Homo sapiens: one gene and its partners. The protein of the gene in region 2 purifies or fractionates together with the protein of the main gene of each other region. This does not show direct contact. Each region holds a gene or a part of one and is shown on either strand. Other genes may lie near its edges. The genes, in order: EXOC6, EXOC7 and EXOC6B.

Region 1 (10,365 bases), on a different chromosome or scaffold from region 2:
GGAGGAGGGCCCCTGCGACGGTGGACATCTGAAACGAGTGGCTAAAAGCCACTGGGAAGGATTAGTTTATCAGAGCCAATGTATAAAGACTGCCTGTACTTTACATTTTGATACAGTTCTATAATTCTATAACAAGAGCTCTAAAACTCTTTAAGAAACATTTGAATGATGTAAAGTTTTGCGAGGATAATGATAGGGTTCCCAGGGGTGAGGAGGGGAATCTTTTTGTAAATGTGTACCCTACCTCTAAAAGCATGCATTTGGCCGGGCGCGGTGGCTCACGCCTGTAATCCCAGCACTTTGGGAGGCCGAGGCGGCGGATCACAAGGTCAAGAGATCGAGACCATCCTGGCCAACATGGTGAAACTCCATCTCTAGTAAAATACAAAAAATTAGCTGAGTGGGCCGTCGCGGTGGCTCCCGCCTGTAATCCAAGCACTTCGGGAGCCCGAGGTGGGTGGATCACGATGTCAGGAGTTCAAGACCAGCCTGGCCAAGATGGTGAAACCCTGTCTCTACTAAAAATACAAAAATTAGCCGGGCGTGGTGGCTGGCACCTGTAATCCCAGTTACTCGGGAGAGAACTGCTTGAACCTTGGAGGTGGAGGCTGCAGTGAGCCGAGACTGCACCACCGCACTCCAGCCTGGGCGACAGAGCGAGACTCTGTCTCAAAAAAAAAAAAAAAAAAAAAAAAATTAGCTGGGCGTGGTGGCACGTGCCTGTAGTCCCAGCTACACAGAAGGCTGAGGCAGGGGAATCACTTGAACTTGGAGGGCGGAGGTTGCAGTGAGCCGAGATCGCGCCACTGCACTCCAGCCTGGTGACAGAGCAAGACTGTGTCTCAGAAAAAAAAAAAAAGGAAAAAAAAGAAAAACATGCCATTTACAACATTAAGCTTAATACGACAAGTATTTGCATGTGGATCATTCACTTATTAATTGAGCCTCTACTATATGCAAGGCACTGGGCTGGGCAGTGAACAATACAGGCATCGTCCCTGTGCCTGATGTAGGAGCAGTTCCTGGAAATGGAGACAGACTCAGTGATTTGTTCACCACCATGATATGTGCTTCCAAGGATGAGTGAGCACTGCTCCCAAGGACAACGAAAGGTGCTTGCCTTAAAAGCGCAGGATCCAGAGGGTTCACTAAAATGGGTCTGGAACCAAGAATCCAACCCAAAGACATGTTCCTGTTTCCCTCTCTACAAAAGCAGGAAACATATTTCAGTTGGTTTACATCCACCAAACATGCAGAAAACCCTGATACACAATCAGGTTTTTTTTTAATGATTAGGAAAAAGAACATTTATGTGTCTGGTTTTTATTTTTATTTTATCAAAGAGGAGGCTAAAATGCTGGGCTCTCTGGCTTACTAGCAAATGCCTGATAACCCTAGTCGCCAATGCTAATGTTGATTGAGCTCTAGGCTAAACATAATACATATATTATCTTCTTTAATCCTCACATAATTTGGTGAGCTAGGGATTCTTATTGTCCTTAATTCACACTTGAAGAACGTGAGCCTTAGTCAAGTTAAGTAACTCCCTGAGGCCTGACATCTAGTAAGAGATGAGTTGGAATTTGAATTCAAGTAGTTAAATGCCAGACCAGAGCAGTTGCACTCTACAACCTCATTCTGAGGGAGGCGCTTTCCCAAGACAGGTCATTAGTCTGTAGATAAAAGGCGCAAAGTTAAGTTCCTAATGACTAAGAGTTTATTTACAAGTCAAATCCTTACTTTGCCAATTACTTTTATACTGGACACAAAATGCATCTCCTGTCCTGCTGGTCTTCCTGGTGTATCTTTCTTCTTCCAGGAGTCCTGAAAAGAGATTTTGGATTGATCTCTGGAAGTCAATATCCACTGCCAAAAAATAATTCCACATGCATCTGCAATCTGCCTGTCTGTGCCCTGCTACTCCGCAACCTTCTCAGTGCAGACGTTAAATCATTCACTCCTTGGGGCTGGGCGTGGTGGCTCATGCCTGTAATCCCAGCACTTCAGAAGGCCAAGTCAGGGCAATCACTTTAGGGAAGGAGTGTGAGACCAGCCTGGCCAACATGGTGAAAGCCCATCTCTACTATAAATACAAAAATTAGCTGGATGTGGTGACATGTACCTGTAATCCCAGCTACTCAGGAGACTGAGGCAGGAGAATCGCTTGAAAGCGGGAGGCAGAGGTTGCAGTGAGCCAAGATCGCACCACTGCACTCCAGCCTGGGCAACAGAGAGAGACTCCATCTCAAAAAAAAAAAAAAAAAAAAATCATTTATCCCTTGGATAGGCTTCCCCCACCCCACATTGACATATTTGATATATCTATGTCCATGATTAAAATGTACAGTTAGGGCCGGGGACGGTGGCTCACGCCTGTAATCCCAACACTTTAGGAGGCCGAGGCGGGCAGATCACCTGAGGTCGGGAGTTTGAGACCAGCCTGACCAACATGGAGAAACCCAGTCTCTACTAAAAATACAAAATTAGCTGGGCGTGGTGGCACGTGCCTGTAATCCCAGCTACTCCGGAGGCTGAGGCAGGAGAATCACTTGAACCCAGGAGGCGGAGGTTGCAGTGAGCCAAGATCACGCCATTGTTACCCAGCCTGGGTAACAAAAGCGAAACTCTGTCTCGAAAAAACCAACCAAACAAACAAAACAAATGTGCAATTAGTTATTTAGGACATTTAGCTTTGAATTCTTAGCTAAAACCTCCAGGTACTCACGGAACTGTCAGAAGTCTCAGAGGGAACCAGCAAAAACTGTTTCAGAAGGAGAAGTGGTAAATGGACTTCCTTCCATGTTCACTTGAATTTCGGGGAAGATACTGCTGCTTATGTTGAAGTAATCTCTATGGGCAGGTGTTGAAACAGGGCTGGCCTGAGGAGTGCCTAAGCAGGGCTGGTTTCCCAGAGCAGGGGCACTTGGAGCCAGCTTTGGAATAAAAGGTATCAGGACTGGTGAAGAAAAGGGGTAGAGTTCTAGGGAAGGAATGATCAGGAAAGTAATTCCCCAGCTGGAGACATTGGTCAAATAGGAAACTGGCCTGTGCCACATGCCCTGCTCTCCTCATTTTGCTCATTATCATAGTTCACCGCAGCCTCGAACTCCTGGGCTCAAGCAATCCTCCTGCCTCAGCCTCCCAAAGCTCTGGGATTATAGGTGTGAGCCACTGTGCTCGACCTAAGAAGTTCTTGAGAGGGGAAAATAACCTTTTGAAAATTGAAACTGAAACATAAAAAAAAGAAGACAAATTTTATCCCCTCCCACAAAAAGAATGAAAAGCTAGGTCTCTCTGCAGGAAATGGAAGACTGTCTTAGCTCAATGGATGTGTATAGCTGGAATCCATTGCTCTGAAGATTCCAGATTAATAGGAAGGAGGGCATTAGCAATGTTTTATAGGGCCCTTCCTAAGTTTGGTAGGCAGTGGGTCCCACTGATGCTCACATTCTAATCCCTGGAACCTGTGCATATGTTATTTTTACATGACAAAGGGGGTATTGCATATGTGATTAAGGTTAAGGACCCTGAGATGGAAGATTATCCTGGATTAAATGGTTGGGTCCACTCTAATCATATGGGTCCTTAAAAACTGAGCATCTTTTCCAGCCTAAGTCAGAGTCAGAGGAAGATGTGACCACAGAAGAATGGTCAGAGAGATGTAATGCTGCTAGCTTTGAAGATGGAGGAAGGGGGCCACAAGCCAAGGTATGTGGGTGGCCTCTAGAAGCTGGAAAAGGCAAAGAAACAAATTCTCCCGCAGAGTCTCTAGCAAGGAACACAGACATGCTGACACCTTGATTTTTAGCCCAGTGAGACCTGTGACAGACTTCTAACGTACAGAACTGTAAGATAATATGTCTGAGTCATTTTAAGCTACTCAATTTGTGGTGATTTGTTAAAGCAACAATGGAAAACTCATACACCATGGGACAGCAATATGAGGCAGACACTGCCATTGTCATTTACAGTCATTTAACTGACATATAAAAGAACTAGGTTCTTGCCCAATGTCACACAGCTGTCAAGTGATATTAATCCAAGAATTAATGTCTTCGGACACTGGTCTTCAGAGCTCATGCTCTAACTATTGCACAATACCACCTCCCAGGATGTTTGTGGGGAGGAGGCTGGAGGTAGGTTTCAAGTAAAAGCTCACTAAGGGTGAGTGAGTTACACAGCTGGATAAAGAGCTTGGTTGACTCAAAGGGAAGCTTTTCAAAGCCCTGGATTAATGTAGAGCAGAAAGTAGTTGTTCCTCAGGCTAGGTTTCCATTCTGTTCCTGTTTAGTCTTCCTTCCTCCCTGCTTTGATCATGACAAACTGGTTTACTCAGTGTCCCACAAACATGTCATTAAGCACGACTTTTTTCTACACTGATACCTTTGTCCAAGCCTCCCTGCCTCTCTCTCCCACCTCCCTGCTGCTAACCCCCTTTCAAGAGCTCTCACCCCTTCTCAACCCAGCTACTCTGACCTGGGGGCACCTGAGTTCACGGACTTTGGTATGAATTACACATCGCCCTGGGCCTTTTTTTTTTTTTTTTTTTTTGGTATCTCTGCCATCAAGTGTCTTAACTTCTCATCATTTAATTTTTTATGTCGCTTATAATTTATTTCCAAGTTGACTGGCCGCTGTGGACTTCTTGCAGGCGGGGACATGAATCCACCTGGAGCGGTCTTCATGGTCAACTGGGATCTTTATTCGTTCCTAAAATAAATCTTACTATCACATGCAATTTTGCTTTTCGTGAGTGCATGTTTTCCTTTCTCTGACTCCCCACGACCCAGAGTACATCAGGCCCTTGTTAAATGTCCCCGTGGCTCTTATTACAGATTCAGGGTGATGATCTGAGTGTCCACCTTGCTGATTACTACGGTACCCCCGCGTGTGGCACAGGGTGTGGCACACACAGAAGACAAGGAGATATGTTAAAGCCCAAAGGCCAGGCACAAGACGCCCAGGAGGGACTAGTCGCGAGAGAGGGCAGGAGGCCAGCTGGGTACCCGGCCGCCGCCCGTAGCCCCAGCTCACAGCCCCCGCTCACTCCTGCAGGTGCGGGGGCGGGAACCGGGTCGCGCGCCTTCTGCCCGGCGTTCCGCGCGCCCCCGCGCCGCCGGCCCGAGCGCCCCGCCCCCGCCCCGCCCCTTCGCGCTCGCGCCACTTGGAGCTCGCCCCCGTCGTTCCCGCGGCGCCGCGCCTCGCTGGCTCCTCAGCTTCCAGCCAAAATGGCGGAGAACAGCGAGAGTCTGGGCACCGTCCCCGAGCACGAGCGGATCTTGCAGGAGATCGAGAGCACCGACACCGCCTGTGTGGGGCCCACCCTCCGGTAAAGATCTCATCCCACCGGGACTTCGGCCCCCCGCCCCACGCCGGCCGCTCCTCACGAGCCGGGCGGGGCGTCCGCCGCCGGCCGCGCGCGAAGCTCCCCGACAGGTGGTGCGCGCGGGGGCGGGCGGGGGCGCTCGCGGGTGGCGGAACTCTAGCCGGTACCCGGGCGGGACCGAGAAGGCGGCTGCACCTGTCGGCGCGGCCTGCCTCCACCGCTGTAGCTGTCACCCCGCAGCCGGTGGGTGTGGCTGCTGCAGGGTCTCTAACCCCGGGCCCCGCGCTGCGGCCCCGCGTTCTCCTCCTGGCTGCGGCCCCCGGGCCCGAGGACACTTCTGGGGCCTGCCCCCGTCTCGCTCGTGGTGGGGCTGAGGGCTGCTCGGCCGCGGGCATGCCAGGCTAGGGTCGACAGCAGGCACCCGGCGTGACGGAGGTGCCAGGTCGCGCGCGGGTGGAAAGCCTGGCGCGCCGGGCTGCCGCGGGCGTGGGAGAATTGAAATTGAGCGGGAGACGCCGGCCCGCTTTCCCCCTACTCCCCCGCGCGGCCGCAGTGGGCGAGAAGAGAGCGTGGGCTGGAGAAGAGAGCGTGGGCTGGAGGAGAGCAGCTGCTTGCTGCTTGGGAACACGCTAGGGTGACCCTGCGCTCGCGGGATCTAAGCTGCTTTGGAGGCAGAACAGCTTTTACTTATTTACAAACATTTCATTAAAATTGCATTAATTTTTCCGTTTAAATCGAGTTCCTCCCCATTCATTTTAAGAATAGTACTAGGTAATGCATATTCCATGCCAAACTGAGTACCTGCTGTTCCAATAGAATATTATTAGCCAGGCAACGTAATGAGCCATGGGTTAGGTTAGGCACTGTCTTCAAGAATAAGTTCCTTTTACATATAAGGTTTCATCTTTTGGAGTGATAATAATGATAAATGAAGTTATTATTCACTTAGGGAACTTGAGACTGATTATGCTTTATCATTAGTATTCTTCAGAATACACTTCCTAGAATAGAGCGCTGTACAGTTTGTGGACCTGTGAATATAGTGTAAATTGAAGCCAGTTCAAGTTATGTAAATACACCTTGCCCTTAAGAGTCAGGAGGCCTGGGTTCTTGTTTTGCCCTAATTCTGCCTCTGATGAAATGTGCAGTCATGGAAAAAAATTATTTAACCTCTCTGGATCTCGGTTTCCTTATTTGTAGAATGGGGAGGGGAGAGTATTCAGATGCCCAGGAAACTCAGAACATTAGGGACCTTGCCTATTTGTTCACTACTGTATCCCTAACACCAAGCATGTGGTAGGCATGTTATAAATTTTTGTCACATAAGGTTTCTGCTATGATATGATAATGCATAATTAGTGCATTTCCTTAATTTTCCAACATTATTATTTCTTTTAATAAACTGTATACTTGGTAATGAAAGAAGTAAGATTAAAAGGAAGCTTTGTTTTCATCACTGCATCTTGAAACTGAGAGTGCAGTGTGTGATAAAGTTACTAGAGTAGTTTATTTGTGAAAATAGTACTGGTTATGAAGGAGGTGCTTCATCTTAGGAAAATGTGCTAGGTAGTGTCCTTGAAAAAAGATGAAATTAACTTAGAAGAAAAATTTGAAATATATTGAGAGATTTTTGGGACACTCAGGAACAGAATATGTGTATTCATAGTGTTATTCTGTTCTTTTTTGCTGGGCAGTTGTTTCAACTGGCTCATTTTGTTTGAACCCACTCTCTTTTCTTTAGCAATCCCTGGTGACTCATACTTATCCCATATATATGTATATTTGTGTCTCATTTATAAGCAGACGCTTTTTGCACACATATAGAGGGTACTGCTAGCAGTCTTTTCTCTTGAACATTGTTTAAGCTACTACTATTTTTTCCCTTTTTTTTCAGGTTTCACGAAGTGAAGTGTTAATATTGCATTTTTAAAAACCATTTATTATGGAAAAATTTTAAATGTTTAAAAAAGTAAAATAGTGTAATGAACCACCATGAACTGTCATCTAGCTTCAATTCATTCCCTGGCCAGTCTTGTTTGATCTCTTCCCTTATCTACTCCCTATCATCTTGGATTATTTTGAAGGAAATCCAAGACATCAATTTATTCATAAATATTTTAGTATTAAGATTAATTTTTGTTGTTATTTCCTAATTATCTTTTAGCTGGCCTGTAGACTTATCATTTTATTTATATTGTTTTTTCTCAGCGGCGGGATTTTTCAGCCTGATCTTTTCCTGAGAAGCACGTGATAAACTTTCCGCAGGCCCTGACATATAACATGGTTCTTTGACCACAACAGAAGTATATTAGAAATCAGTAGTTAAAAAAAACAAAAAAACAAAAACTATCTGGAAAATTCCCAAATATTTGGTCATTGACTAACACACAAAAAATAAATCAAAAGAGAAATTAGAAAGTATTTTAAACTGAGTAAAATGAAAACACAGCATATCATTTGTGAATGCAGCTAAAGAAATAGTTAGAAGTTTATGGCACCAAACACCTCTACTAGAAAAGAATGGCTTCAGCTCCTAGCCTAAGAAACTAGGAAAAGAGGAGCAAATGAAATTCAGAAGAGTGGAAGAAAGGAGATGGTAAAGATCAGAGTGGTATTCAGTGAGACAGAAATACAGAAAGTCAGTGAAACTCAAAACTGGTTCTTTGAGGAGACTGTAAAATTGATAAACCTTTAGGGGTAGAAAAGGAGACGATACAAATTAAAAATAACAGGGCCAGGCGCGGTGGCTCACGCCTGTAATCCTAGCACTTTGGGAGGCCGAGGCAGGCAGATCACTTGAGGTCAGGAGTTTGAGACCAGCCTGGCCAACATGGTGAAACCCCGTCCCTACTAAAAATACAAAAAAATATTAGCTGGGTGTGGTAGCACACGCTTGTAATCCCAGCTGCTCGAGAGGCTGAGGCAGGAGAATCGCTTGAATCCGGGAGGCGGAGGTTGCAGTGAGCCGAGATTATGCCACTACTCTCTAGCCTGAGCGACGGAGCGAGACTCCATCTTAAAAAAACAAAAACAAAAACAAACAAAAAAAAAACAAAACCAACCAACTAACCAAACAAACAAAAAAACGGGAGTGAGAGAGGTTACGTGACTATAGATTCTACAGACATTAAAAAAAGGTTAAGAAATATTATGAATAGGCTGAGTGCAGTGGCTCATGCCTGTAATCCCAGCACTTTGGGAGGCTGAAGCAGGAGGATTGCTTGAGCTCAGGCATACAAGACCAGCCTGGGTAACATAATGAGACCTTGTCTCTACAAATACAAAAATTAGCTAAGTGTGGTGGTGTGTGCCTGTGGTCCCAGCTACTCGGGAGGCTAACGTGGGAGAATGGCTCAGAGTCTGGGTCGTTAAGGCTGTAGAGAGCTGAGATTGTGCCACTGCACTCCAGCCTAGGCAACAGAGTGAGACCCCCATCTCAAAAAATGTATATATATTATGAACAACTTCATGCTCATACATTTGGCAACTTAGCAGAAATGGACAAATTAGTTGAAAGATACAAAGTATTATCAAAGTTCACTTAAGAAGAAATAGCTGAATAGCCCTGTATCAATTAAAGAAAGGGAATTTTGCTGTTATAAGCCTTCCCCAAAAGGAAACTCTAGGCCCAGATAGTTTTACTGGTGGATTCTACATCTTTAAGGAAGAATTAATGCCAATTCTACAAAGACTTTTCTGGAAAATTGAAGAGGAGGGAATATTTCCCAGCTCATTTTGAGGTCAACATTAACCTGATACCAGAACTAAAGAAAGAAAGACATAACTAGAAAAGGAAACTAAATCAGTATTCCTCATACACACAGATTTTACAAAAAATTTTAGAGAATTAAATCCATATATGTGGATTTAAAAGTATAAAATACATCTATATAAAAAGTATATTCTGTATATGTATATATGTGTGTGTATATATATGTGAAGAATACATCATGATCAAGTGAGGTTTATTTCAAGAAAGATGCTGGCTTAACATTTGAAAAATCAATGTAACATTGTTCACCATATTAAACAAAGAAAAGTTGTATGATCATATATGTGGAGAAAGCATTGACAAAATCGAATATTAATTCCTGATTTTAAAAACCCTCAGAAACTAGTAATGGAAATTCCTCAGCTTAAAACAGGGCATCTATGAAAATCTAGAGCTAAATTGTGCTTAGTGGTAAGAGTCTGAATGCTTTTCCTCTAAAATCAGGAATGAGGTAAGGATATTCATTCTCACCACTTCTATTCAACACTGTACTAGAATGTTGAATATAAGGCCGGTATAATAAGACCATTTAAAAAAAAAGCATCTAGTTTGGAAAACCGTCTTTATTTGCACACTGTGTGATCAACTATTATAGAAAATCCTGTGGAATGTACAGAAAAGCTACTAGAACTGATAAGTGAGTTTAGCAAGGTTGTAGGAATCAGGTGGATATGCAAAAGCCAATTGTGTTTCTCTGTACTAGCAACAATCAGAAATTGAAATTTAAAATTTGATGGTATCAAAAATATGAAATACTCAGGGATAAATCTGACTAAAGATGTGGAAGACTTGTATGTGAAAAATACAAAACATTGCTGATATAAATTAAATTAACATTGCTGATACTAAACTAAGTAAGTGGACACATACTGTTTTCATGGATTGGAAGACAGTATTGTTAAGATGTCAGTTTTCTCCAACTTAGTCTAGATATTCAAGATAATCTGAATAAATCCCAGCAGAATGAAAATTTATAGAAATTGACAAGCTGATTCTAAATTTCATGTAGAAATGTAAAGGACCTAGATTAGCCAAACTAACTTGGTAAAAGATGAACAGAATTGGAGGACCCATAGACCTGATTTTAAGATTTACTATAAAGCTACAGAAATTAAGACTGTGGTACTAGCATCAAGATAAACAAATAGATCAGTGAAACTTAATAGAAACCACATAAATAGATTAACACAGTCAATTGATTTTCAACAAAGATGAAAAGGCAATTCAGTAGAAAGAGATAGTCTTTTTTAGTAATGGTGGTGGAAAA
Region 2 (9,607 bases):
GGGGCAAGGGGAAGGGGCAAAGGCAGACAGAAGGCGAACTCCCAGGTCTGTGTTCAGAGCAGTCTACCCCAGGCTTAGGCGGGCAGCACCTGCTCTCCCACTGCGCCCCCCACTCGAGTGGCAGCCCATCTCTGTGCTCAGCGGTAGCCTCAGGGCCCCTCTCTAGGGTGACAGACTCAAACATTCGCAGCAGCTCTGCAATCCCAGAGGTCCGAGCACATCAGTCTTCTGTCCTCCCCAGAGCAACTGCCCTCCACAGCCATGGCGACTGCAGTGGCTCGGCCCCTTGCAGCAAGGCCAGAGGCTCAGGTTGCCATGGCCTCACTCCTGGAAACCACCTGAAGGTGCAGCCACCCTGTATAAACCCATCAGGTGACATCTAACTTGGCAGAGAAGTCCTACCCTTCCCTCCATGAGAGACCACAGCGGTAGCCCTGGGGATCCTGCTTCAGCTGTGAGATGATAGACTGACGAGCCTGTGACCACTTCTCCCTCCATCATGAAGTGGTGCAAAGTACATTTATTTTTACAATGAAAGCTCATCTATGAATCTGATAAAGGCCTTCCTTCAACTGGAGACAATTTGGGATGTTGCAAAACAAGGTTTGGGAAGCCCTTCTATGGATCGGTTTTGTGTCCAAGTCTGTCCCTGCCAAAAGCCATCAAAAGTCTCCATCACCCCTGGGCTCCAGTCTGCTACCCCCAGACTTGGCAGCTGGGATCTCTCCTTCCTGGTTCATAGTTCTCATTCCCACCCCTCAGCGATGGAGTTAGAGTTCCAGGCCCACGTGGTGAACGAGATTGTGAGTGTCAAGAGGGAATACGTAGTTTATGATCTGAAGACCCAAGTCCCACCCCAGCAGCTGGTGCCCTGCTTCCAGGTGACGGTGAGTCAAGTCGGGAGGAGGCCGACAGAGGGCTGCTGGAGGCGGGTGGGAGTGAGGATGCACGGCCAGAGGCCAGGCCCCATGCCCCCGATGCCCACCTCCTTCCCCCCCGCCGGGAAGGCCCTGACTTTTCCCCTTCCAGCTGAGGCTGAAGAACACGGCGCTCAAGTCCATCATCGCTCTCTTGGTGCCTGCAGAGGCACTGCTGTTGGCTGACGTGTGCGGGGGGTTGCTGCCCCTCCGGGCCATTGAGCGCATAGGCTACAAGGTGACATTGCTGCTGAGTTACCTCGTCCTCCACTCCTCCCTGGTGCAGGCCCTGCCCAGCTCCTCCTCCTGCAACCCACTGCTCAGTAAGCCCTGCTCCCTTACCCAGTCTGCCCTGTTTCTCCCCGGTCACCCACTGGTGCTCAGCTCGCTGGGCACCAGAGACACAGGGACTGGCCCCTGAGCATCTCCCTGTGCCCTGCCTCCCCCAGTTTACTACTTCACCATCCTGCTGCTGCTGCTCTTCCTCAGCACCATAGAGACTGTGCTGCTGGCTGGGCTGCTGGCCCGGGGCAACCTTGGGGCCAAGAGCGGCCCCAGCCCAGCCCCGAGAGGGGAACAGCGAGAGCACGGCAACCCAGGGCCTCATCCTGCTGAAGGTGGGCAGGGGCTGGGGGGTAAGGAATGAGGCCTAGGTGCACACCTAGGGCTGGGGTGAGGGCACGGAGGTCCAGGTGTGGGTAGAGGCCCCTTGCATCCACCCTGCTGGCTCTCCTGTCCCTGGTCTCCACCATGTCCTCCTCCCTTAGAAGAAACAGGTCTGGGGCAGGGAGCAAGCTGAGCCTCCCTGAAGTCCCAGGTGACCTCAATCCCCTGATAACCCATGCCTTGCACAGCCTAAGAGGGTGTTTCTTCAACTGAAGATGGCCTGAAATGGGCCAGACCCAAATTTTCATCAGCTGAGAATCTAAGAAAGGAAGCGATACAGGCTGATGACCCCTGGGGTTCGCTCTTCCGCTCATGTTGAGGGGACCTTGAAGAACAGCTCCTTTCCCTGTATCTCTCCCCACAGAGCCCTCCAGAGGAGTAAAGGGGTCACAGAGAAGCTGGCCTGAGACTGCTGACCGCATCTTCTTCCTCGTGTATGTGGTTGGGGTGCTGTGCACCCAATTCGTCTTTGCAGGAATCTGGATGTGGGCAGCGTGCAAGTCTGACGCAGCCCCTGGAGAGGCTGCACCCCATGGCAGGCGGCCTAGACTGTAAAGGGGCAGGGCCTGGGCTGCACACCTTAGGATGAAGTTTGCTTTCCCATGGCTGGGGGCGGGCCATGACAGGGCCTCTGGATTAAGCCACCCTGAGCTCTCCCTCCGCTAGCACACAAGCACAGAGCGTGAAATAAACCCATCTCCAGTGCAAGTGTGCCTCAAGGGTCAGTCTTCAATCTCGTCCTAAATAGGTGGGGCCCTATTTTTTGCTTCCAACCCCCATTTTGCTCCTTAACTTTTCCCCATTGTCCCTGTCTCCCAGCCCACAGGCAGGCAGCCTAATTGCTCCTTCTGCAACCACGACTGCCTGGCCCTGGGCCAAGAGGCACTGAGGCTGGGGGCCAGAGACAGGGGCCTGAGGAAGGCTGTAGAGGGTGGGGCGGAACTCCTCCTCCGAACGCCTCCTGCAGTGTGCTGGACTCTAGGGAAAATGGCCAGTGAGCCTGCCTCCCCCAGCCACCTAGGGGACTCCTGGGAGGGAAAGGTCCCAGACCTCAGGCCTGTGGGCGGGCGGGAATGTGTTTTAAGAGAGGGGGTCAGTCCCGACTGCCTTTCCTCCAGGAGCTCTGGCTGCTTCTCTGAGCCCTGCCACATCTCTGGGCTGTAGGGGAGTTCTCTGTCCCCACCTCTGACCTAGGCTGGAGGGAGGGCCCTTCTGCCCTGCTGCTCTTGGTACACATGGAGCAGCAGTGGGCACAGGCCTCTGTCTTCCTTCTCTCTTTTCCTGTTTCAGAAGCCATCAGGGTCATAAAAGCCAAGGTGTGGAGGGACCCCAGGCTTCCGGGAGAGTGCTGGTTCGGCTGGGAACACGGGCTGTGGGGAAAAAGCAGGAGCCAGGACTAGGGGGCTCAGGGACACAGCTCCCGGAGGCGTGGAGACAGGTCTCTGTCCCAGAGGACTTCAAGCTCACCCAGCCCAGAGGCAAGCTAACACTGGTTTATCTGTCCAATGACACGCCAGTCTGGTGGAACCAGGCAGGGCTAGCAGCAGGCTCAGGCAGAGGTGTCGAAAAGGCGATCGATCATGTCGCCCACCTGCTCCACCCCGTACTTGATGTACTTCTCCGGGTTCTTGGTGAAGGGCACGCTGCCAAACCTGAGGAGGCACTGTGGTCAGGGGACAGGGAGGGCCGACCCCTCCCCAGCTCCACCCTCAGCCTAAGGCACTCCTGATAGTCTTGGAAGGGGTGGCCCTGAGCGATTCCCTGTCTGGCCCCGCCCCAAAGCCCAGGTCGCTGGATCTGCTGCCTAAATCCACCACCCTTCTCCTTTTTCCCTTGAGGAAGAGGAGCTTGAAGAGGCCCACTGGGGCTGTGGGCAGCACAGGCTGGGAGGGGAATGGAGGCCTCACTTCTGTAGAAAGGCCCCGTAGGTCTCCTTGACAATGGTCTTCTGGGCCTGGCGAATCCTGTCCCTCTGCTCTGTGTCTGGAATAGCCCAGGCCTTCTGGATTTTGCACAGTTCTTCGAGGCCATCATTGAAGCCCTGGCCACCAAAAAGGTGAAAAAGGAAGGCACCCAGAGACAAACATTTTGGGTCTGTGTTGCCTCAACAGCAGCAGCAAGCAGTGGAGGGGAGAGGACCCCGACTCACCTTAAAACGCTCCTTGATAATCTGCCGCTCCTTGTCCCGGAGCTGGGAAGCCAGGAGAGATAGCAGAGAAAGCTCACTTCAGAGCAGAGCAGCCTTCCCCCACTCTTCCCCAAACACCCTTGGTCTGGGCCTGTCTCCTGTGTCCTGATGGCCACATGCATCCTTTGCTCTCTGATCCCAGAGGGATGCTTGTCCACTTTTTCCCAGAGACACGACAAAAAGTATCCCGTCTGCCAGACACCCCTTCCCAGCCCAGGTCTTGAGCCCACCTTGACTCCCGGCTGGAACACAGGTAGATTCTTCTCTGCGATGTAATCAGTCACCTTTAACCAGCTGCCAGACAGAAAGAGAAGCATGAGGGCAGAGGGTGGCCTGCCTCAGTGGCCTGGCTTGTTTCGTTTGCTAAATCTCTGGATCTACTTGGTGGGTGGTGGTAGGAAGGGATGTGGGTCACAACTAAGCAAACAACAGGTTTTCTTCCTGGGAAGAGAAAATCTTTAAACTGGTCACTTTTTGAGATAACATTAGGAAACACTTGAGTGTTCAATAAATTGGACAAATACTGTCAACTATACTTCACATCAATATCGTGGCAAACTAAGATGGAGAAACAGATGAGAAAGAAAGGAGTGGAGGGCAGATAAATGAGAAGGAAGAGGTAGACACATTCAAAGGGAAGAAACAAAGCCAGGAAGAAAGAGGACCAGAGAAGCAGCGGGATCCTCACAGAGCAAGGCTCAGCCACGTTCAAGTGCTCTCGCGACCTTGCTCTTCTCCTAGGTAAACATTACCCACGTCTCTGAGAGCCAGCTCTTCAATCATTCTTAGCCTTGACACTTGGCAGACTCCCCTCTAAAGTGGCCATAGTGGGCCCCTAGGAGCAGGTAGTGGTAGAGGAGGGGGCTTCTCTCTCCACCCCGTGAGTTTGATTAGAAACCAAGTGGAGGATTAGGGTCCAGAGGACAGGAGTTCCCCGTGACCGACTCTGTGTCCTGAGGTGCTGAGAAGGAAGAGTGCGTGGTGGCACAGGGGCCCATGCAGGAGCAGGGCGGGCCCAGCCTCTCACCTGCGCTGGTAGGTCTGGATCTGCTGCTCAATGTGCTCCCGGTAGGAGCGCTCAGCAGTCTTCTGTGTCACTGCCACCAGCTGGATCAGTTCAGACCTGGGTCGGGGTAGGGGACAGAGGAGAGGAGGACAGGATTGGCTCCTCAGGCCCAAAGGCTGCGGCAATGCCGGGAGGGCCTCCCATTGCACCCCAAACTCCACAAGCTCTATGGCATCCCACCTTCCGGGTCCTGGGGTGGAGGAGACTGAAGCACCCCCTCCCCTCTCGTCCACAAGAGAAGGAGCCCAGGGGGGCAGGGGCTGGCACAGCTGCACAGCCGAGGGGAAGGTGAGAGCCGCAGACTCACTCCCGCAGGCCACTTACTTCTCCAGGGACTTGAGGATGTAATTGTAGTTGTTGTGCAGGAAGATGGCGCTCAGAGCTGGGTCCTCGTACACCTTGGACTTGCTCAGCAAGTTCAACTGCAGGTTGCCCAGCACTTTACCTGCACAGGGAAAAATGGGGCCACACCCACCATGGCAGTCTGACCCAAACGACCCCACCCCAGGACCCGCGAACGCGCTCCTATCCATCGCTCCTCGTCCTGCCTCAGGAGGCCTTAGCCCAACTCCCCTCAGCCTCTGAACTAGAGGTCAGGTTGTGGTTCCAAAGATCAGATGGCACTTAGGAGAGGGCCCTGGGAATAGCCAGAGAGCACAGACAGAAGGAAGGGAAAGGCAGGGCATGCAGGCAGCAGGGCTGCTGGTCTGCCCGGGAGAACACTCACAGATATAGGTGCTTAGCAGCCGCTTGCTGAACTCAGAGCTGTAGCTGGTGGCCGAAGAGCTGGTCTCTGTGAGAGGAGAAGTCCTGTTATTGCAGTGGCAGCAGCCAAGACCCTCAACGGCCCTTCCCCCAGGCCATGCAGCAGTCTGAGGGGACACTGAGACAGGCCCTGGGCTTCCTTGGGCAGAGCTGGCTGCCTGCTAAGCCACAGGGTGGCCCCTGCCGCAGGAAGCACCAGCCCTGGAGTTTTTGGAACCCAGAGCTGCCCTCTATGATGGGATGGAGCTGGCCCATGTCAGCAGAAAAGCTGGCAGGAAAAGAGTGAGATGCCAGCGCCCTGTCCCCTCCTGCCCCCACCCACCCTGGGTGGTTTCTACAAGGCCCCCTTTTTCCTTTTGTCAACAGCAGAGTCTTAGAATGGGCTCCCCACAGCCTCTCCACCTTCTCCCCTACATTCGAACATCCCCTCTACCAGACCCTACTGAACAGACGAAGCTGCGGCCTGCACAGTGGGGAAGGCCGAGTGGGGACAGCAAGGCAGGGAGGCCGGGCGAGCCTAGGGGGTGTATCCAGGGCTCTAGCCTGGGCAGGTGCTGCGGATAAGCTCAGAGACAGAGTGGCCTTGAAGGGAGCAGAGAGAGTTGAGAGCACCCCGAGAAAACTCATGTCCCCTCTGACTCAGGCTCCCCAGTAGGTACTGAGAGTCAGTCCCCAGGGAACCTCACCCACCAAGCTTCAGAGGGACAGGAGGGGGCTGCAGAACCGCACTGCTTACCTCGGGGGTCTAAAGGAATATTGTATGTGTCCCCAAGAACTACGGAGTGAAAGGCAGTGCACACAGAGGGGACAGAGGGAGAGACAAAGGAGGGAGAAAGATGCAAAGTGCAAAAAACAGGTTAGAAACGGCATGTCAACCCGAATTAAGCAGACCTCTCCCCACGACAGCCAAAACACAGATAGCAAGACACAGCAGGCGGGACCCTCTGAGGACCAGGGAACACCCTGGAAAGTAGAGAGCTGAGAACTGCAGGCTGGAGGCTGCCCACAGGCTCCTTGCCCCCAAAATGGGACGGGAGGAGAGGGCCCAGGGACCTCAGTGCTTGGAATGACCCAGAAAGGTGCTCTTGCTTACAGGCCAACCCCCTGAGCTCCAGTCCCAGGGCAGGGCCAGCAGGAAGACGCCCAGCGGGCCCTGAGACACTTGCTACCCTCTGAAGGCCAGCTGAGCGAGCCTGATTAGGAGAGCAGGCAGACACGAGAGAAGGATTTGGGAGGGGGGCAGGGGCAGAAAGGACACCTTCCAACCAACCAGCACCGCTCCCAGAGTGAGGACACTGCTTCCAGGGCGAGGACGGTCAAAGGGGCTGAGGGAGGGGCCAGAGGTCCAGTGTCTGGTCTTGAAAGGTGCAGGCAAACCTTGCTCTCCTGATGCTCAGCCCCAGGGACCCTCTGCTGAGCACACCTCAACCCCTCCACAGACTGGAGATACCTCCTCACTGCTACCTGCCCTCTAACCCCATGTCTCCAGGCAAGGAGGCGAGTGGGGCAGGGGGCCCAACTGGGAGGTACCAGTACCTTGGGAGGCCAGCATGGCGCCTGCCGTCTCCTGGAAGTCCAAAAGCTGCTGCAGGAAGAGGATGGCCTGGGTGGGAAGAAAACGGTGCAGAAGGGCAAGTGGCAGGCCCGGCCGACGGCCTCCCACAGCGACCCCTCTGAGTGCCCAGGGCCAGCCCAGGGCTGGGATCCGCCCAGTGAAGAGCGCGGCTGGAAACTTCATTTTCACTCTAGCCTGCCAGGAAAGGCCCTGTCTGCTAGAGACACTAAACATGTCACTGTCCATCCTGCCACCCAGGACTGCTCACAAAGGTGCGAGCGGCTCTGGGCCAGGCTGAGTCCCTTCCACCAGTACTCTGCCTGGCCCTGGGCCTGGGCCTGGGCCCTCCTTCCTCCCCTCTCCCTGGTGTCCTCAGGCAGCACCCACATTGCTGGTGAGCTCGTGTACGGTGCCGTCCTTCGGCATGTTGTACTCCTTGTCCGGGTCATTCTGTGGAAAAACAGCCTCTGGTTCCCTGAAGCAGCCCCCAGCCCACCCCATGCCCCAGTGCACCTGCTCATGGTGCCGCCTCCTGGCAGACGGGTGCTAGGACACCTCTCAGGCACAAAGGCTGAGCCAGGCTGGACCAAGGGGGAGAGGCCCTTCCCACTTCAGAGGGCTTGGAGGCCCCAGGAAGGAAAGGAAGGCACATGGGTGCTGACAGGCCAGTGGCGCAGCTGGCTGCCCCGGGACAACGCACCCTCTTGGAGGCCTGCTCTGAGAGTCCCCCAGGGCCAGGTCACTGTGGTGCTGGGCCGGGAGGGAGGGAGAAAGGGGAGGACAGCAGGGACCTTGATGTTGTCTGCGAAGTCCTCCAGCGCTTTGGCACCGATGGTCTCCATGGATGTGATGAGGCCAGGCAGCTTGTTCTTTGTGCTGGCAGCCGTGCCCTGAGGAAGCACAGGGGAGCCCCCAGCTCACCTCCAGTCGCTCTGTGAGCATCTCACTCACCCAGGGCCCTTCCTAAGCTGCTTCCATGCACCTTCAGAGCAGAAGTGTGGGACAGAGAATGGGGTTCTCCCAGGGAGGGATGGGGCGGCCACACCCGGCAGCACGATGCCTCCTGGCTGTGTTTTTGAGGGCCCCTCGCCCACATACCTGGAGCACCTGGTCAAACTCAGGCTTGGTCTGCTTGAGGTGTCGCAGGATGGGGAAGACGGTGAGCACCGTGGAGAAGTCGTGTCGCACAATGGCCTTCCGGGCAGCAGACACGATGTTCTCCCCTTCAAGCATCAGCCCATCCAGGGCATCCTGAGGGGGCAGGGAGACAGTTCAGGGAAGGGTGGGGCGGTGGGAGCTAGTTCTGGGCTAGTGGGGGATCCTTGCAGTATGTAGGGGGGCCAGTGTGCAGGAAGAGGGGTGACGGGGAGGTGGTGAGCGTCCACCCAGGACCGGTCCCCAGGGCACGAGGTGGTGGTGGTGGGTGGAGTTGAGGGCTGCAAGAGTCTGTTGTGACAGCTCTTGCTGGGGCTGGCTGCAGAGCCCCCGGGGCGGGGCGGGACCTGTATCAGGGAGTCGAAGGTCTTCTTCTGGTGGTGCTCGGGGATGATGTCGGCCAGCAGCTGGTACTCGCTCTGCGCCAGCTTGACGAAGGCACTGACGCAGTGGATGTAGGCATCGGTCTCCACGTCCAGCATGTCATCTCTCCCTGGGGGATGGCACAACTCTTGAGCTGCTGGTCTGGGGCCAGCCACACTCCTGGCTGGGGGCGGCGTGGGTCCCCCAGCTCCTGGCCTGTACCCCACACTGGCAGAGGATGGGGAAGAGGCTGACTGTTCTGGCAGAAAGCTGCAAGGGAGCCAGCAGGCCCCGCCAGGTTCGAGGGGAATAAAAGGAGCTGAGCCCAGCCTTTGTTCTGGCTTCATTCTCGGCTCTGCGCAGACAGTGGGATCAGACACCAGAGGCAGGAGAGTGACGGATGGAAAGATAAGGAGGGAAGATTCCTGAATCAGCGTCCTGGATAAGGTGGTTTGACCCCAGGACTGAGCATTCTGAGTTGTACCTGAAAGAGGGCAGCCCAGGGTGGGCAGGTGGCTGTGCCACCTCAAGGAGGCTGGCACTGGGGTCATCCATGTGGGCAAATGCGGGGCCTGTGAAGGAAGTGACCAGCCCAGTCAGGGCTTCTGGAACATCTAAGAGGGTGGTTGGCTGCAGCTTCTGAGGCTGGCTGGCATGGGGTCAAAATCTAAGAGGCTGGTAAGTCCCAGAGAGGAGGGGTTGCCAGCTGCCCCAGGAGGAGGCCAGACCCTATTACTGGAGGCCACGGCGGGGGCGCCTGCAGGCAAAACCGGCGGCAGAACTGCCTGGTCCTATGTGCCAAGGGATGGGCTCCGAGGGGATCAGAGCTCTGAATTGTTGCAGGAGGCGGACGTCAGGGCTCCCTGCCCTCAAGGGAGCCACCTTCCCTCTCTGCCTGCTTTCCGAGGAGCAGCGGCTTCTCCCCTTGGCCC
Region 3 (10,471 bases), on a different chromosome or scaffold from region 2:
GGTTGTGGTGATTGCTGCACAACTCTGCGAATATACATACCCAAAACCATTTAATTGTATACTTTAAATGGGTAAATTGTATGATACATGAATTATATCTCAATATAGTTGTTTTTTAATGGCAATGTATTTCAATATTAAATTTTAAGTTTGAAAACAAAATCTTAAACAACAATTAGACTGAATGTTAATTGCTATTACCCAGAGTACCAAGTGAAGAAATGACTTCTACTGAGTAAGTGATATAAAGGAAAAGTAGAGATATAGGGATGGGATTTGAAAAATGAAAACAGGGAGCTATTGTTCATAAATGATTTGTCATCAAAATTTTAGTATTTATAACACAAAGCAGGAATGAACATTATTTTAAAAACAGGACAGGCAGGCTTTAACATCTTACAGGCCTCTTTCCAAAATTAGGACTCACAGATAACAAAATAATTTTTAAGGTAAAGACAAAGAGAGAGATAGCTACTTTCCCAAAAGAGTTTGCTAGGCAACACCCTCTTTATGTGTGGATATGCTTGGGCCTTTCAGAATTACAATGAAAAAGAAGAGGTGGTATATCCTTATGATAGATGGGAATCTACCAACATTGCATGTACAGCTCAAAACTAAAGTAATAACAGTAATATAATGAAAAAGTCAAGCCACTGTGACTCCTCAAACAAAAAGGAGTAAGACTGGAAAAAATAATCCGTATCATAGCAAAGAAAGAAAGCAAGTAATGATACACAAATAATAGCTGGCAAAGGAAAGAGTCTGGTTAGGCAATACAGCCAAGTGGATTTTTTTGAAGAGCAGGTATTTTAGGGATATACTAATCTAATATCTGCTCTCAATTTACTTTCTGTGTTCGTTAGTTTCTCTTCAGCTAGAAAACCCATCTCACGAACAGTTAAGAATCTGGTGCCTTTACAATGTTACCTCAAAAGATGAAGAAAGAGGAAAGACATACTATGAAGAAGAAAAGTTCGAGGTTTACAACTGAGAGTAGTTAAGGCAAGAGAGCTACTGCCTTAATCAAACCTGTTTCATGATAGTGATGAAAAACAGGAGATAATGACAATAGAGGCACATCCCAAGTAAGGCATGGGATCTGAAACATCAAGTCTGTGCATGCTGCTGCCTCTGAACGGGATAAGGAAAAAAGGTGAGATCATCCCCTATGAATATGGGTAGGGACAGCTAGACTAAAGACAAAGGCAGTGGGTACTCCTTGTATTATAGGATATTCAAGTGAATGAACCCTGGGTCTGACAGTAAGACTCAGTGTAATCTGCTAAAAAAAAAAAAAAAAAAAAAGTTGAGATCAAAAATGATGAGCCCATAATAATCATATAGGAAGTCAAGAAAAGCAAGTAAAACTGGTAATGAGTCTCAAACTTTCTTTTTTTTACAGTGTCCCCTTAGGGCAAAAGACCTCTTAATCCATCTATCTACACAAAACCCCACTTTTCAGTGAAAAAACTCAGTAACAACAATGAAACAAGTTTTAGGGAGACTGGGTAACTTATATTTAAACCGTAATGTATATACAGTTGACCCTCTGTATCTGCAGGTTCAACCAACTTCTCAAATCAAAGTTTTAAGAAAAAAAAAAAAAAAAAAACAAAAAACAAAAAAAAAGACAGTGGCCAGGCACAGTGGCTCAAGCCTGTAATCCCAGCACTTTGGGAGGCTAAAGCAGGTGGATTGCTTGAACCCAGGAATTCAAGACCAGCTTGGGCAACATGGTGAAACCCCATCTCTATATGAAATATAAGAAATTAGCCAGGTATGGTGGCGAACGCCTGTAGTCCCAACTACTCAGGAGGCTGAGGTGGGAGAATCACCAGGAAGTCGAGGCTGCAGTGAGCAGTGACGATTGTGCCACTGCACTCTAGCCTGAGCAACAGAGTGAGACCCTGTCCCAAAAAAAAAAAAGAAGGATGGTTGCATCCGCACTAAACATGCTACAGACATTTGTCTTGTCATTATTACCTAAACAATACAGTATAACATATATTTACATGGTATTTACATTATATTTGGTATTATAAGTAATCTAGAGATGATTTGAAGTATACAGGAAAATGTGTGTAGGACCATTGACCCTTAAGAGCTGAAGAAAATGGGAATTGAGAAAAGCACAATGGTCCTGATCATAAGGCAATGGGGGTTGGTGGAGAGACAGGCAACTGTGTGGAAGAACTGGTCCAAAAAAGGGAGCTAAAAGTCACTTTAAGGGACAAAGGGGCCAGGCACGGTGGCTCATGCCTGTAATCCCAACACTTTGGGAGGCTGGGGTGGGAGGATCATTTGACCCCAAAAGTTTGAGACCAGCCTGGGCAACATGGCAAAATCCCATCTCTACAAAAAGTTTAAAACTTAGCCAGGTGTGGTGGTGGTGCACAGCTGTAGTCCCAGCTACTCAGGAGGCTTAGGTGGGAGGATCTTAACTCAGGAAGTCAAGGCTGCAGTGAGCTACGATCACATCACTGCACTGCAGCCTAGGAGACAAAAGGGGACCCTCTCTCAATAAATGAATATTAGGTTGGTGCAAAAGTAATTGCGGTTTTTGCCATTGCTTTTAATAAATAAAGAGACAAAAGGCAAACTACTAAGGATAGTTATGACCAGGGGTGGTACTGGCAGAAATGTGCTAACAATGTGTCCTGGAGAAGGAAGCTGTGCAAGTGGAGAGGAGGAGTAATTTCCAGCCTGCCCTCCAATTAGTCTTTCCTGAGTCAACTTACCCCAAGAAAACGCAAGCAGTGAGTAATAACTTTTCTGATGGGAGGGGCAGTGACCCAAGACTGTGCAAGGAGGGTAGGATAGTTATCTATGTATTGGCTGCATGATCAGAATGCATAACAGTAAGGGATAAGGATGAGTTGGTTCTAGGACACCAGTAACATGAGGGGAAGGGGGAAAGTAGTTCAAAACTGGGCTTAGTGAGTAGTTACCAACAGTAAGTACAGGTAGCCGATAATCCCCAGCTGAGGCAAAACAGTGGTTAAGTGTCTGGGTCCAGGCTATCCGAGTAGGAATCTGAGTCCCCCACTTTATTTTCTCTGTGACCTTGGGCAAGTCACTTAACCTATCTGTGCCCTGTCTGTAAAAGGAGAGTAATAGAACCTACCTAATACGGTTGTTTTGTAGCTTAAATAAGTTGCATTTGTAAATCACTTTATACAACGTCTTGGACTTTATGTAACAAGTGCTACCTAAATTTGTTAAATAAGTTGAGGTAAGTAGGGATTTCTTTTGACATCTCCAAATAAAATGGAGATGTGCGTGCAAAAAAAAATGATAACTGGGGGGCGGCAGCAGGGTCAGTTTTCCCCAGCGATGAGGAGGCTGCACCGTGGGCGAGGGTCGTCCTCGTAACAGGGAGGCAGGGATAAAGGAGCAGCGGCTCCCAGGAGAGGGGCGCGGGTTGGGGAAACTTCCATCCAGGCCTAGGATTTCCAGGGACTCGTTTCTGAGAAGTGGCTGTGATTCTGAGGCAAGACTTTGATTTCGAGCACTAGACCATGGAGTGAAATTCTGTGTTGTCTGAAGAGCAGGACTCCTGTCTAGGGCAGGACGTAGTTAGAGACGGAGGGAGAAGGGTGATGTCCCCAGGGGGAAGATCTGCCGGGAGCCACCACCATCTGTCGGGCGCCCTCTCGTTCCCCAGCGCCGGACCAGCCTCGGAGGGAGAACGAAGGCTGCTCCTGCCCCGAGGGAGGCAGCGGGAGGGTCCTGAGTCACTGGGCTGTAGGGCGCCGGGAAGGGACCCCGCGTCGGGGCTGCGAAGGGAGACCCGCCTCGCCCGGTATGCAGGGTCTCTCCGAAGGGAGGGGCCGGCGCCGGACCTGGGGACAGCCGGCCGGAGGCCCGACCCAGAGGAGCCTGCCCCGTCCCGCCCGTTCCCGCCCCTCTGTGGTCCCGGCACCCGGGGTACCTGAGCGTGGGCCCGATGCAGGCCGTGTCAGTGCTCTCGATCTCTCGCAGGATCCGCTCGTGCTCTGCCGCTGTCTCCAGGCTCTCCGCCTCCGCCATCTTACCCCGCTCCATAGACTGGGGGCGCCCCGCAGCGCGTCCCCTCCGTCGGCTCGGCTCACCTTTTCCCTGCCCCACAATGCCGCTCCCACCACAGGCTCCACAGCCGCCCCAGCCTCTGGCTACCCGCAGGCCGACCCCTCCCTCAGGCTCGACACGCCCCCTTGCGTCACCGCGTCCGTCGGCGTTCTGCGTAATGTCCGCTGGGATTTGTAGTTCTCTGGGAAATGCTAGGTTGGATTCCATTCATTCATACATGGAATCCGCAAATACTAGTTGAAGCCCACTGTAAGCAAAAACAGTTAACGACAGTGCGTAAACAGTGATGATCAAGTCAGGCAGTGGCACTAAACCTACAAATTCTTGTTTACCACCTTTGCCACAAAGTGCCAAGGCTCCGTCGGCGCGAATAATAAAGTCTAACTTAATGTCTGACAGAGGCCTTACAGTCTAGTGGGGGAGACACGGGGAGCTGGAGAATTCAAAACTGTGAGCTGTAAGCCAGTTCCGATAATGGAGTTCAGAGATCTCTTCTGGTTGCCAAGGCTTCATAAAGACACTGGGTTTCGGAGGTTAAAAGGCATAACTGGAAGGTGTGAGGAGAATCCAGACAGCCAAAAAGAATTTCATTTGCACTGACGTGTAAAGACGTAGTAGTAAGGGATGGGTCTGGAAAGGTTCGCTGGAGAGAAATTACGAGGAGCCTTAAATACTGGGCTGATAAATGTGTACTTTGTTCTAATGGTTCCACTGATCCAACAACCAACTGCAACAGAAGCACCTGGAAACATTTTTTTTTAATACAGACTGACTGACAGTCATACATCTGGAGATTCTGATCCAGGCATCTGCATTTCATGAACTCATCAGTTACAATTTAAAAATCGGATTTATTAATCATTGCTTGAGTTTTTACGTAACACAATGAATGGGAAGGCACTGAAGGTTTTTTGGGGGTTTGTTTGTTTGTTTGTTTTTGAGACAGTGTCTTGCTCTGTCGCCCAGGCTGGAGTGCAGTGGGGCGATCTCGGCTCACTGCAAGCTCCGCCTCCCGGGTGCATGCCAGTCTCCTGCCTCAGCCTCCTGAGTAGCTGAGACTACAGGCGCCCGCCGCCACGCCCGGCTAATTTTTTTTTTTTTTTTTTTTAGACTGAGTCTCGCTCTGTCGCCCAGGCTGGAGTGCAGTGGCGGGATCTCAGTTCACCGTGAGCTCCACCTCCCGGGTTCACGCCATTCTCCTACTTCAGCCTCCCAAGTAGCTGGGACTACGGGCCCACGCCCTGGGACTACCACGCCCAGCTAATGTTTCGTATTTTTAGTAGAGACGGGGTTTCACTGTGTTAGCCAGAATGGTCTCGATCTCCTGACCTCATGATCCGCCCGCCTCGGCCTCCCAAAGTGCTGGGATTAGAGGTGCAGGTTTTTAAGAGGAGTGACACAATCAAAATGTGGGCGTTAGGAAATTTGGTGAAGGGCAAGTGTGCAAGATGTGCAGAGACAGAGAATTTGGAGATAAGGCAACACTGTAGGAGATGAGAAGGCCTAAACCAGGGAAGCAGCAATGAGAATGAAAAAGAATGAACAAGTAGGAAAAACATCAAAAAGAGAGAATTGACAGGATTTACTAGATACCAAAAAGGTTAGATATTACTCCAAGGTTTAGTACCAGAGTGACTAGTAGAAGAGAGTTTCCACTGACAAAAAAAAAAAGGCATGAGAGAAGAACCAAACTGGAAGTTTAGGCTAAATAATTTGTGCTACAACCATACTATAGACTATTATGCAATCATTAAAAAGAAAGACAAAAGACTCTATGGTCATACATGAAACTGTCTCCAAGTTGTAGTTGTTGAGTGGAAAAATGCAAGGCATGAAACAATATGTAGACTCTGTCCTCATTTGTTTTTTAAAAGAATAAATATTCATATATACGCTTTGATATATATACACACACACATATACATATATATAATATTACATAGATAGAATCTGTCTGAAAAAATGCCCAAAAAACTGTTAACAGTAATGGCATCCAGGAAAAAAAAAATTGGAAAGAAGGAGTTTGAAGTAGTAAGAAGGTAATTTGTAATTATCATTTGCACTCTTGGAATTATTTTCCTTGTGCATGCACTGCTTTTTTAATAAAAATAGTAGTCATGACCTAAGAATGCATTTTAAAAATAAACAAACCAGTAGTAAGGGGAATGGGTTACAAGTCCTGATTTGCCAAGAAGAGAGCAAGTTGATAAACCTGTCTGTCTCTAGATAATCTCTGCCTGTCCTCGTTTTGTTTCATTACTCATGTTTAAACAATTCCAAACAGATGTAGGAGGGGTAGGGAGAGTATGGAGCCTTTTGTATTTCTAAAGATCTCTTGAAATACATGACCGAGGGTCCCTTCAGACACCCATTTTAGCATCTCACTCAGCAAGTTTTTCACCCATCCAGGCTGCTGCATAGACGACATACATTCAGCAGTAGTTAAACTAGCTTCTGCTACTGTCAGCAGTTTTTGTGAGCCTCCACAGAGGCCAGAGGCCACACATCTCAGCAACAGGAACAAGTCTGCAGTAAGCAGTATTGGAAACCTCCAGTGAAGATGGCAAGATGGCCTGTCTAATGTTTATGTCCTCCAAATAGAAAGAATGTGAGTCGCATTGATTCAGTTCCAGCATTAGTGGTTAAAATGTTTTGAGCAGGCTGGGCACAGTGGCTCATGCCTATAATCCCAGCACTTTGGGAGGCCGAGGCAGGTGGATCACTTGAGGTCAAGAGTTTGAGACCAGCCTGGCCAACATGGTGAAACCCTGTCTCTACTAAAAATATAAAAATTAGCTGTGCATGGTGGCAGGTGCCTGTAATCCTAGCTACTCAGGAGGCTGAGGCAGGAGAATCACTTGAACCTGGGAGAAGCAGGTTGCAGTGAGCCAAGATCACGCCACTGCACTCCCGCCTAGGTGACAGAGTGAGACTCCATCTCAAAAACAAACCAAAAAATGCACTGAGCACTTTCTGTGTGCCAAGCACAATATACAAAGTAAGTACTTCACATATATCAACCTCATTAAATCCTTACAACAATCCTTTGCAGTAAAAATCACGTGTCCCATTTTACAGATAAGAAAGCTGAAATATTAGGCAACACCCCACATCTCACATCCATTAAGTAATGAAGCTGGTATTCGAACCAGGTCAATCTGATTCAAAGGCCTATTTCCTAACCAGTAGCCCATGCTGCCCCACCCAGGCCCTTCACGGCCACGAGTTTATTATGTGACCATTCTGCCACTCTATCTCTGCTTCTACATTAATATAATGGATTGTATCATTTCTCAGAACCCTTCCAAAACACCTTGGAGACCTCTTCACAAAACCACATCCCTCCACTTACCTAGAATGAACTGGTTTTCTCTTCTGCATGAGTAGATAGGCAGCATCAGCATTCTCACTGCTCTCCACTGCCACATCTAGGCTGTTGTTTCAACACCCTGATTCCCTAACTCTCCTTTGAAGTCTAGGGCATCAGATTATGCCATAATTATCTACTAATGTCCATATTTCTCCGAAATGTTACTTCTTGGCTCACAGTTTTAGGGACAGGAGGTAGGGAAATTCTGGGCAGAGGAGCACAGGTCCCCAGCAAGGGCCCCACCCTCAAGCCTGGAACCACAGACCAAAGTGAGAACATATATCCCTGTTTTCTTGCTCGAATGTTGCCTTTTCCAAAGCCACCCATGGCCTGCCCCGCTCCCCATCCTGTGCCCATAAAAACCCCAGGCTCTACTGGCAGAGAGGAGAAGCAGCTGAACATCAGAGACTATGGTTGAACATTGGAGATAAGGGGCTTGACTTCAAAGGGACAGCTTGATGGAGTAGCTCTGAAGGAAAATTACCTTCCTGCTCTGTCCCCTTTACAGCTCCCCTTCCCACTGAGAGCCATCTTCCTCAGCAATAAAATCTCCCACATTTACCATCTTCAACTCTGTGTGACCTCATTCCTCCTGGATGCCGGGTGCAGGTGCAAAAGTCTGTCACACTGACCCTCCACTGAGCTGCTAACATTTAAGCTGTCCATGGATGACAAAGCTAAAAGGACACTGTAACACTTCCTCTGGGGCTTCAGGGGTCACGGGCTCCCTCCCCTAGATACTGCCACAGGACCAATACGGAGTTGGGTCTTGCTGGTGCCCAAAGGTGCTCGTCCCAGCTCCTGCACACAGTCACCTGCCCTCTCCCTCCCACAATAGGTAGAGCAGCAAGTGAGTGGAGTTCACCCCTGCCAGTGCCCATGCACTCCAGTTCCCACCCACAAAGGGGTCAGGGAAATTTCCTTATTCAACAGTTTTTCTCTCCACCCCATTCCTTATCATGATCCCAAGGAATTTCAACATTGGGACTGTGTGTGCTGACCACTCTGACTTTACTGATCGATCCCAAGTATCCCAGCCAGGTTCCTGGTGCCACATGGACAATCCATTCATGGCTTCACCTTCTACCTTAATATAGTAAGTCCTAACTTAAAATCACCATTAGGTTCTTGGAAACTGAAACTTTAAGCGAAACTGTGTATAATGAAACCAATTTTACCACAGTTCATTGATATAGACAAGAGTTAAGTTTCTACAGCCTATTTCTGATCTCAAAAACATCATCGAACTTCTAAATAAATACCAAAACACTTCCATTGCTAAATATTGAAATAAGAGCTAGATATACATTTTTAAAAGTTTAATAAAAACAAATAAGATAATGATTTACCCACTTTTTGGTGAACCAGTGAGTGACAGCAATTGTAGTGGTGGTGGGTTAAATCAAGGAATAAATGTTTACAAGACAAAAATTATAAGGAGTACCTCCTACCCAAGGTTCAAAAACAATCACTGAGTGCTTTAGTACAGCATCATTTATTGTTGTGCACCAAACAATTATCAGATACTTTAGGATGTCTTCTTGTACATTAAGTTGTATTCATTCATTTTCCAACTTGCTTATTCCAATTCAGGGTTGCAGGGGGCCAGAGCCTATCCCAACAGCTCAGGACACAAGATAGGCACCAACCCTGGACAGAATGCCATTGCATGGCAGGGTGTACTCACACACATACCCACACTCACTCAGAAACAATTTAGAGATGCCAAGAACCTAACGTGAACATCTTTGGGATGTGGGAGGAAAACTGAAGTACCGGGAGGAAAACCAAAGTACCAGGAGAAAATGCAGGCAGACATAGAGAGAATGTGCAAATTCCGCACAGACAGTGGCCCTGGCTGGGAATCTATTTTTTTCTCATCAAATGTCAACCTAAAAAATCCAAAAGTTCAGAATCTAATTTAAAAAGAGTTTATTCAAGCACAAGGGTTGAAGAGGGCCACCTGGGAGCATAGATTCAAGTTGCCCTGAATAATACACACTTCAATTAGTGGCAGTTACAAATGGTTTTTTGGGGGTTTTTTGGCGGGAGGGGATGGTTTGAGATGGAGTCTCGCCCTGTTGCCCAGGATGCAGTGCAGTGGCATGATCTTGCCTCACTGCAATCTGCGTCTTCCAGGTTCAAGTGATTCTCCTGCCTCAGCCTCCCAAGTAGCTGGGATTACAGACACCTGCCACCATGCACAGCTAATTTTTATATTTTTAGTAGAGACAGGGTTTTGCCATGTTGGCCAGGCTGGTCTCCAACTCCTGACCTCAGGTGATCTGTCTGCCTCAGTTTCCCAAAGTGCTGGGATTACAGGCATGAGCCACCACACCTGGCCAGTTACAAATGGGTGGGGTTTTTTGTTTGTTTGTTTATTTGTTTGTTTTTTGAGATGGAGTCTCACTCTGTTGCCCAGGCTGGAGTGCAGTGGCGTGATCTTGGCTCACTGCAACCTCCGCCTCCTAGGTTCAAGCGATTCTCCTGCCTTGGCCTTTCAAGTGGCTAGGATTACAGGCTCCCACCACCATGCCAGGCTAATTTTTGTATTTTTAATAGAGACAGGGATTTCACCATGTTAGCCAGGTAAGTCTTGAACTCCTGACCTCAGGTGATCCACCCGCCTCAGCCTCCCAAATTGCTGGGATTACAGGTGTGAGCCACCTCCCCCAGCTGCAATTGAGTTTTTAAAGGAAAAAACAAGAGGCAGTTTCTAAGTTTACCAAGAATTTACATTAAAATAATATAAGCTATTGATTGGCTATAAATTGTTCTTTGTGTCACAAACTCCAGGAATATGAAGATAATGGGTGAGGCAGCTAGTCAGGAACAAAATATATTTTAACAATTGCCCCAAGCATGGGTGTGGGGGTAGGACTAATGCCCCATACTCAGGTCTCTCTCAGCCTGATAAATTTTGCATAACTCACAAACTCAGACAGCTCTGAGCTATCTTTCAATTTTCCAATATTATAACAAAATGACATTATTTGGTTATTCAAGGACCTGCTATATTCCATAAACACTGCT

Evidence for each region.
Region 1: the proteins of EXOC7 (region 2) and EXOC6 purify together in Homo sapiens (affinity purification with mass spectrometry; 5 studies listed by BioGRID and IntAct, with this or other methods). This does not show direct contact.
Region 3: the proteins of EXOC7 (region 2) and EXOC6B purify together in Homo sapiens (affinity purification with mass spectrometry; 3 studies listed by BioGRID and IntAct, with this or other methods). This does not show direct contact.

What each region holds. Positions count from the first base shown.
Region 1 is NC_000010.11:92,843,306-92,853,670, forward strand, and holds the start of EXOC6 (exocyst complex component 6), read left to right. Parts: upstream 1-5,214; 5' UTR 5,215-5,228; coding exon 5,229-5,329; intron 5,330-10,365. UniProt on the Homo sapiens protein: Component of the exocyst complex involved in the docking of exocytic vesicles with fusion sites on the plasma membrane.
Region 2 is NC_000017.11:76,080,516-76,090,122, forward strand, and holds the end of EXOC7 (exocyst complex component 7), read right to left. Parts: coding exon of another isoform or gene 9,529-9,607; exon of another isoform or gene 9,227-9,528; coding exon of another isoform or gene 9,160-9,226; intron 8,806-9,159; coding exon 8,660-8,805; intron 8,409-8,659; coding exon 8,256-8,408; intron 8,048-8,255; coding exon 7,949-8,047; intron 7,608-7,948; coding exon 7,545-7,607; intron 7,206-7,544; coding exon 7,139-7,205; intron 6,378-7,138; coding exon of another isoform or gene 6,339-6,377; intron 5,631-6,338; coding exon 5,565-5,630; intron 5,283-5,564; coding exon 5,162-5,282; intron 4,895-5,161; coding exon 4,799-4,894; intron 4,066-4,798; coding exon 4,002-4,065; intron 3,775-4,001; coding exon 3,733-3,774; intron 3,625-3,732; coding exon 3,491-3,624; intron 3,236-3,490; coding exon 3,133-3,235; 3' UTR 2,139-3,132; coding exon of another isoform or gene 1,948-2,138; 3' UTR 1,535-1,947; coding exon of another isoform or gene 1,367-1,534; 3' UTR 1,241-1,366; coding exon of another isoform or gene 1,030-1,240; 3' UTR 888-1,029; coding exon of another isoform or gene 763-887; 3' UTR 501-762; downstream 1-500. Other genes in the region: ligand-gated cation channel ZACN precursor, read left to right, coding at 763-887, 1,030-1,240, 1,367-1,534, 1,948-2,138. UniProt on the Homo sapiens protein: Component of the exocyst complex involved in the docking of exocytic vesicles with fusion sites on the plasma membrane.
Region 3 is NC_000002.12:72,821,867-72,832,337, forward strand, and holds the start of EXOC6B (exocyst complex component 6B), read right to left. Parts: upstream 4,168-10,471; 5' UTR 4,045-4,167; coding exon 3,932-4,044; intron 1-3,931. UniProt on the Homo sapiens protein: Component of the exocyst complex involved in the docking of exocytic vesicles with fusion sites on the plasma membrane.